Homo sapiens: one gene and its partner. Changing the gene in region 2 together with the main gene of any one other region gives a genetic interaction. Each region holds a gene or a part of one and is shown on either strand. Other genes may lie near its edges.

Region 1 (3,654 bases), on a different chromosome or scaffold from region 2:
AATTCCAATAAAAAAATGGACCTTTTAGACATCTGGAGAACAATATCCCCAGGTCACTTAACCCTTATCTCCTGCAGTATAATGCAGTGCGTCCAGCTGATCTACCAAATTGAATGTGTGCCTTTGAATACGAAGCAGTTGTTTTGTGGCCTGTGGCATTTCATTTAGGTTTCTAAGCTGTAATAAATTAGTATGTTAATTTACTTCTTTCCATTCACATATTCTTTAAATCCAAGCCTAGAAACTGATAGTTATATGTATATTAAAATCATTGGAATATTGGTTTTTTTGCAGATAGTGTTTGGGCTGTTTATTATCCATAGCTCTTCATTATGTAAATAGAATCTCAATGCTGATAAAGTAAATAGATTCTTCCATTTCATTAATGGTTATTTTTGATTTATGATAAACTGCATTTAATAAATCTCTTGATTTAGTTAAATGGTGGATACATCATTTCATATTATAGCAAATTGATAAATATAAAAGAAAGTTTTACAATCATAAGAGTAAATATTTAAAAAAACTTGAATAAGTTACTTTACTAAACATAAAATTAAGATTTTTAAACAACTCTGAAACTAAAAGTATTACTATTATGGTACCTTTTTTTTTTTTTCCCCCAAAGAGATGTGATCTTGCTGTTTTGTCCAGGTTGGCCTTGAACTCCTGGGCTCAAGCAATCCTCCTACCTCAGTCTCTTGAGTAGCTGGGACTATAGGCATGTGCTACCACAGCCAGCTTTATTATAGTACTTTTGTACCCTGCATCAATGCTGCTTCTGTTGATACTTTTCAAAGGAGATATCAACTTCTGGTCTTCAACAGTAGTGTAGCATCCTCTTATTGATTCTCTGGCTCATATTTCACTACCGTATAGTATGGAGTTTCTTTCTTGGAGTTTGAATTGTTTTTACATTGCAGCTTGTTATAGTGAAACAATTAAACATATTTAAAAGTAAAAGATATTTACGACTGATTTTTAAAGAACCTGTAAAAAAATCTCCAACAGAAGAATATTATATGGGGATGTGTAGATTTAACATTTTATTTTCTTTAATTTTTTTTTTTTTTTTTTTGAGATTGGGGTTGGGGGTTGTCTCTCTATGTTGCCCAGGTTGGAGTGCAGTAGTGGCGTGATCACGGCTCACTGCAGCCTTGAACTCCCTGGTTCAAGCCATTCTCCCGCCTTAGCCTCTGGAGTATCTGGGATTATGGGTGCATGCCACCATGCGTGGCTAATTATTTTTTAATATTTGTAGAGATGAGACCTTGGTATGTTGCCCAGGTTTGTCTTGAACTCCTGGGGTCAAGTGGTCCTCACACCTTGGCCTCCTAAAATGCTGGGATTACAGGCGTGAGTCACTGTACCCGGCTCCTTTATTTTATTAAAAAGATTTTTGTTTGTTTGTTTGTTTCTAAGTTTAAAAGAGACAGGGTCTTGCCATGTTGCCCAGGCTGGTCTTGAACTCCTGACCTCAAGTGATCATCCCACCTTGGCCTCCCACAGGCGTGAGCTACCATGCTTGGTTGTAAGATTTTTAAAAAATGGATTAGTTTCAAATCTCAACTTCTCTTTCTTTCAACATTCTAATCTCCTGGCATTTTTTTCCTTTCCCCAGCTACCCCCCATCATCCAACAGTCTTCCATTTGGAATAATGGGAAATCAAACCAATAAAGTTAATCTTACCTCCCACCAGGCAAAGGTTTTTCTTAATCTCTACAATATTCTGAACATAAAACCCATATAAACTTTATATGATACTACACATTTTCCTTTTAACGGAGGAAGAGCAAATGGGACCTATGGAATTATGCCGTATTTGTCAATATAAGGGTTACTTTTGTACTCTTACTGAAAGCAGAGTTATAGGGCTAATTTCATTTAAATTTTCTTACCCATCTACTTTAAAAAAATACCTCTTTGTGGTAGTCTTTTTTTTGGTCAGAAAATGACAATGTGAAGGAGAAATACGTTTTGAATTTATAAATCTTCTTTTAATTAACAAATTATACCAATATAAGGGTAGTGTTAATGTGGTTCAAATTTGCCTTTGCTATTCTGCCTTTTCTTCTATAGTGATTGTATAGTTATACTATAACTTCTTCCTCGAAGCACTGGAATAAAAGAAAAACTTTTAAAGATCACTACGAAATGCTCACTGTATTTGTTGTATTTTATAACTTGGGTTTTTAAAATTTATTTTTCCATAAACTGAATAAATATGAAAACGAACTTGAAAGATCTTGTCACAGCCTTGATGACTGGTCAGTATAAAGTTCACATTATAAAATAATAAAACATTGATAATAATCTTAGATGAAAATGGAAAATTAAGCTAATGTTTATTTTAGAACCTGAGTAATGAGTTTATATCATGTAGCAATGAGGCACATGAAGACGGTTAGAATTAGTTTTTCTAATGAATAAACTTCATGATATAAACTTGAAAGTGCATAAATGCTATAACTTTCTGATTGTAAACTTGAACAAAAGTAAAATGAAAATGGGAGAGTCCTCTTAATTACCTTTAACGTATAACTAAAATGAACCTGTGTATCTGTCTAAGTCTTATTTGATCAAGACTTTCAATGGACAATGAATGAGTTTTAAGTTTTTATCAATGTTGTGACTGATTTTTCTATAATATCCCTTAAATGAGATATCAAATTCTAATAATATCTAGAACCAGATTAAATTTGGTTAGAGTATAAACAATATTTACAAACCATCAAAACTATAATAAAAGCATTGTAATGTTATTTAATGACTTAAGCCAACATTCCATAAGCTAATCTAAGCATTTTTACAATTAATACAATTGATAGTAATATCTTAATTAGTGGTAAAGTGGACAGATATAATTTATAGATTCTGTATTGTCTGGGACCTTGGGGCAGTCAGTGAAGAGAGGGAGATAGAGAGAGGAGCATACTGGTTGATGAGCTTGCCTTATTTGGAGATGAAGGAGATTTATTCAGTTTTTCTCTTTCCCTCTACTTACTTCTCCTTGTTTGTCATCCTCTTCTAGCAATGGTAAGAAATGCGGGAATTGACCATCTTTACAGTATACTTTTTTCCTTAGAGTTCATAGAACATTTCCAGGTAAAACATTAGCTTTTATGTTATAATAGGTTTATTATAATGATATCATTTCCTTTTGAGGTGGTAGGCAAGAGACTAGAAGAACTTCATTTGTATAGCATTTAATATTATTTATTAAAAATGATTTTATAGGCCGGGCGCGGTGGCTCATGCCTGTAATCCCAGCACTTTGGGAGGCCGAGGCAGGTGGATCACCTGAGGTCAGGAGTTGGAGACCAGCCTGACCAACATGGAGAAACCTCATCTTTACTAAAAATACAAAATTAGTCGGGCATGGTGGCACATGCCTGTAATCGTAGCTACTTGGGAGGCTGAGGCAGGAGAATCACTTGAACCCGGGAGGCTGAGGCAGGAGAATCACTTGAACCCAGGAGGCGGAGGTTGCAGTGAGCCGAGATCTTGCCATTGCACTCCAGCCTGGACAACAAGAGTGAAACTCTGTCTCAAAAAACAAAACAAAACAAAAAAACAAAAACAAATTCTAACCTTCATGTGCCTCATTACTGTAATGTAAAAAAAAAAACTATGTTCATTGAAGAGAACTAACA
Region 2 (3,409 bases):
AGGAGCTTTCTACCAGGACCTCTTGGGCCCCTGTCTGCCTCACCACTGTGGTCCTGGCTACCAGACTGGAACTTCATTATTGATCTAAATCCTAGTGTCTTCCTGAGCTTTTGTTTTGTTTTGTTTTGTTTTAATTTTGCCCCAAAAGCCTGTTGACTTAACTGTCACCAGGCTGTCACACATTCATTCATCGCCTGTGTGTGTTTATTTGTAGGTGAATGTACATATTTGGGATCCAGAAGTCAATGTGTTTGCTCAGAACCATGAGCCTGAAGTTGGGAGACCATTCTCCTCTTTACAGCTCAGATGGTGGTAGAGCCGGTAGACATCTAGTATAGCCCAGTGGGGCCTCCTGACCTCTAGTGGGGAGGGCAGGGAGGTGAGGTGAGGGGAAGCAGTCAGCTAGGTCTTCAGTGAGGCCAGAGGGAAAGATCTGTAATTTAAGAAGGACACAGCGGGTGACGGCCTCTGAACTAACTCAGTACTTCTCATTTCTCCCTTACAGTTGGAGGTCCCCCTCCCCACTAAGTGCCTCTTTGCATAGCACCAGTCCCCACCCGCACGCTCTCTGGACCACTACAGCTGGACGGGCAATGGCGGGTCGGGGAGGCGCAGCACGACCCAATGGACCAGCTGCTGGGAACAAGATCTGTCAATTTAAGCTGGTTCTGCTGGGGGAGTCTGCGGTAGGCAAATCCAGCCTCGTCCTCCGCTTTGTCAAGGGACAGTTTCACGAGTACCAGGAGAGCACAATTGGAGGTGAGTGGGCATGAGGGAGTCGGGGAGGGGCCTGAAGGTTGCCAAAGAAATGCTTTGACCTTGAGGAGATGGGAAGCTGCCTGCCTGCATTAGGGACTAAATGCGTCTGTGGTGGCAGCCCCACTTCCTCACCTGGGCCCTGGAATTGAGCCCAGCAACTGGTCTCCATGCCAGAGTCCCCTCAAGCATCGCTAGTAAGCATTTGCTGGGAGTGGAAAGCTAGCTTCCCATCCTGTTTCTGCCCCTTCTTGATCTGTGTGGCCTTGGCTGAGGCCCTTTCACTGCCCTGGCCTCATGGAGGGAGAGCTGACTCTGGATCTTTGAGGCCCCTTCTTACTATAATGGGTGGTCCATGTGCCCTGGCCTTTCCCACTTCCAGAAGAAGGAACAGCCTGGTGAGTCGGAGCTGGGTGATAGGTGGGTGTTTCTGAAGCTGACTTTACCCTTTCTGGAGCTCACAGCCTGTTGTTGATTTTCCAGTGGTCAGCATTTAGGATGTGAGTGAGGGTCTGGCCTCGGCCTCTTGCCTCCGTGGCTAACACACACATCAAGAGGCAGGGGCCAACGCTGGCCTTGGCCTTGAGTCATCCTTTCTCTACTCTCTTGGTAGGAGGTTTCTAGGCAGCTGGAAACAAAATGGGCCATGTCAGCAGTCTCCCTGCTGCCTCCTCAGCATTTGGGTCAGGAGCTGGAGAGGGGAAGTGAGGCAGTGCCCCATGTCCCTCAGTGAGCTGGGGGAGGGCAGACCAGGAAAGCAGCCTTCTACACATGGCTGTCCTGGGTTCTCTGCTGGGTCCAGGGGCAAAGGGGCCTTTTGCTGTCTGTCCCAGCTCTGGACTCCTCCTTTGAAGCATGTGTACAGGCACCCTGCATTCCCCTAAGGAGTCACCTCTTAGTGACTGAAGGTCAGGTCACAGGGTGGCCATACAGGAACAGGTCTGGGTCAGAGCTAGGGGCGGTGGCTAGCTGGAGTGCCTGGAGGTGGTAGGGGTGGTTGGGAAGCCGGCCACCCAGCCTCAGCCTGGTGGTGGAACAGTGTGTACTTCCCCAGCATAGCTAAGTGTGTGAGAATGTCCTTAGGAAACCCAAGGTCAGTGACACCCCTGGGCTGGAGCAAACTGAGGGGTGGAGCGGTCCCTAGCTGCTGGTCTGTTCTCTGAGTGGCGGAGGAGGAGGTCTGAGGGCGCTCACCCTTCTGTGCTTGGAGTAGGCTTCCCCTAGGCTTTCCCTCTCTTGCCCCTGCTGTGTTGCTCTTCAGAGAGTGGTCCTGAGATGGCTCAGTGCATGCAGGAGTCCCTTCTCCTGCCGTTGCCTGGGCTGGGTCTGCAAAGCCTGTGCAGACCCCGTCCCCCAGACACATACATAAAAATCCAAACTCCACCCCCCACTCAGGCCTGCTTTGGCTCCTGGCTTGAGGGTTCTCTGTGCCCATCTCAGTGGTGGGCTTCTGAGTGCCAGAGCCTAGAAGCAACAGTGGGATTGTGTGGGGTGGATTCCAACTCGCTCTTGCCCATGGACGCTCCTTCTCTCTTACAGCGGCCTTCCTCACACAGACTGTCTGCCTGGATGACACAACAGTCAAGTTTGAGATCTGGGACACAGCTGGACAGGAGCGGTATCACAGCCTGGCCCCCATGTACTATCGGGGGGCCCAGGCTGCCATCGTGGTCTATGACATCACCAACACAGTAAAGATTTCCCCTTGCTTCTTCCTTTGCCCTTCATCTTCTCAAAGTCCCAGGGATTGGGTTATCAGAGCCCTGATTTCAGGCCGCTTAACCCTCTGTTCCTGGGTGGGGGGTGGGCAGATTTCCTGTTTGGGGACATTGCATCAGAATCTTTAGGTGGCAATGTCTTAGATAATTTGGCTGTGCCAGCTTGAGAGTCTCTAATGGGTGGCCCTGGGCAGAATGCCTTCTCTGTCCCTTCGACATTCTGTCCCTGTCTCCTCAGGATACATTTGCACGGGCCAAGAACTGGGTGAAGGAGCTACAGAGGCAGGCCAGCCCCAACATCGTCATTGCACTCGCGGGTAACAAGGCAGACCTGGCCAGCAAGAGAGCCGTGGAATTCCAGGTGGGGAGATGACAGACTTGGGGGAAGGAGTGGAGTAAGCAGCTCCCCCCGGCCTCGCCTGGGATGCTCAGGGGCTTTGGGAAGGGCCATGCTAGGAGGCAACAGGGAAGCTTCCATCTGCTGTCCTCTCGTGCCTCAGGCATGGGCCTAACATGGCTCCTGTCTGTAATCCCAGTGCCTTGGGAGGCTGGAGTGGGAGGATCACTTGAGGCCAGGAGTTCGAGACCAGCCTAGGCGACACAGTAAGACTCTGTCTCTGCAAAAGATTTAAAAATTAGCTGGGCTTGGTGGCACGCACCTGTAGTCTCAGCTGCTCAGGAGGCTGAGGCACGAGGATTGTTTGAGCCCAGGAGTTTAAGATTGCAGTGATTGCAACACTGCACTCCAGCCTGAGCAAGAGTGAGGCCCCATCTCTTTAAAAAAAAAAAAAAAACAGCCAGGTGTGGTGGCACACACCTGTAATCCCAATACTCTGCAGGCTGAGGCGGGAGATCACTTGAGCTTAGGAGTTCGAGACCAGCATGGGCAATGTGGCGAAACCCCATGTCTAAAAAAATACAAAAGTTAGCTGGGC

Evidence for each region. Genes that interact genetically often act in the same process or in processes that back each other up.
Region 1: changes in RAB5C (region 2) and FUT8 together harm fitness more than expected from each alone (negative genetic interaction), as found in Homo sapiens cells (one large-scale study listed by BioGRID).

The regions. Positions count from the first base shown.
Region 1 is NC_000014.9:65,415,710-65,419,363, forward strand, and holds part of FUT8 (alpha-(1,6)-fucosyltransferase), read left to right. Parts: intron 1-3,654. UniProt on the Homo sapiens protein: Catalyzes the addition of fucose in alpha 1-6 linkage to the first GlcNAc residue, next to the peptide chains in N-glycans.
Region 2 is NC_000017.11:42,127,687-42,131,095, reverse strand, and holds part of RAB5C (ras-related protein Rab-5C), read left to right. Parts: intron 1-505; coding exon of another isoform or gene 506-593; coding exon 594-759; intron 760-2,295; coding exon 2,296-2,447; intron 2,448-2,712; coding exon 2,713-2,835; intron 2,836-3,409. UniProt on the Homo sapiens protein: The small GTPases Rab are key regulators of intracellular membrane trafficking, from the formation of transport vesicles to their fusion with membranes.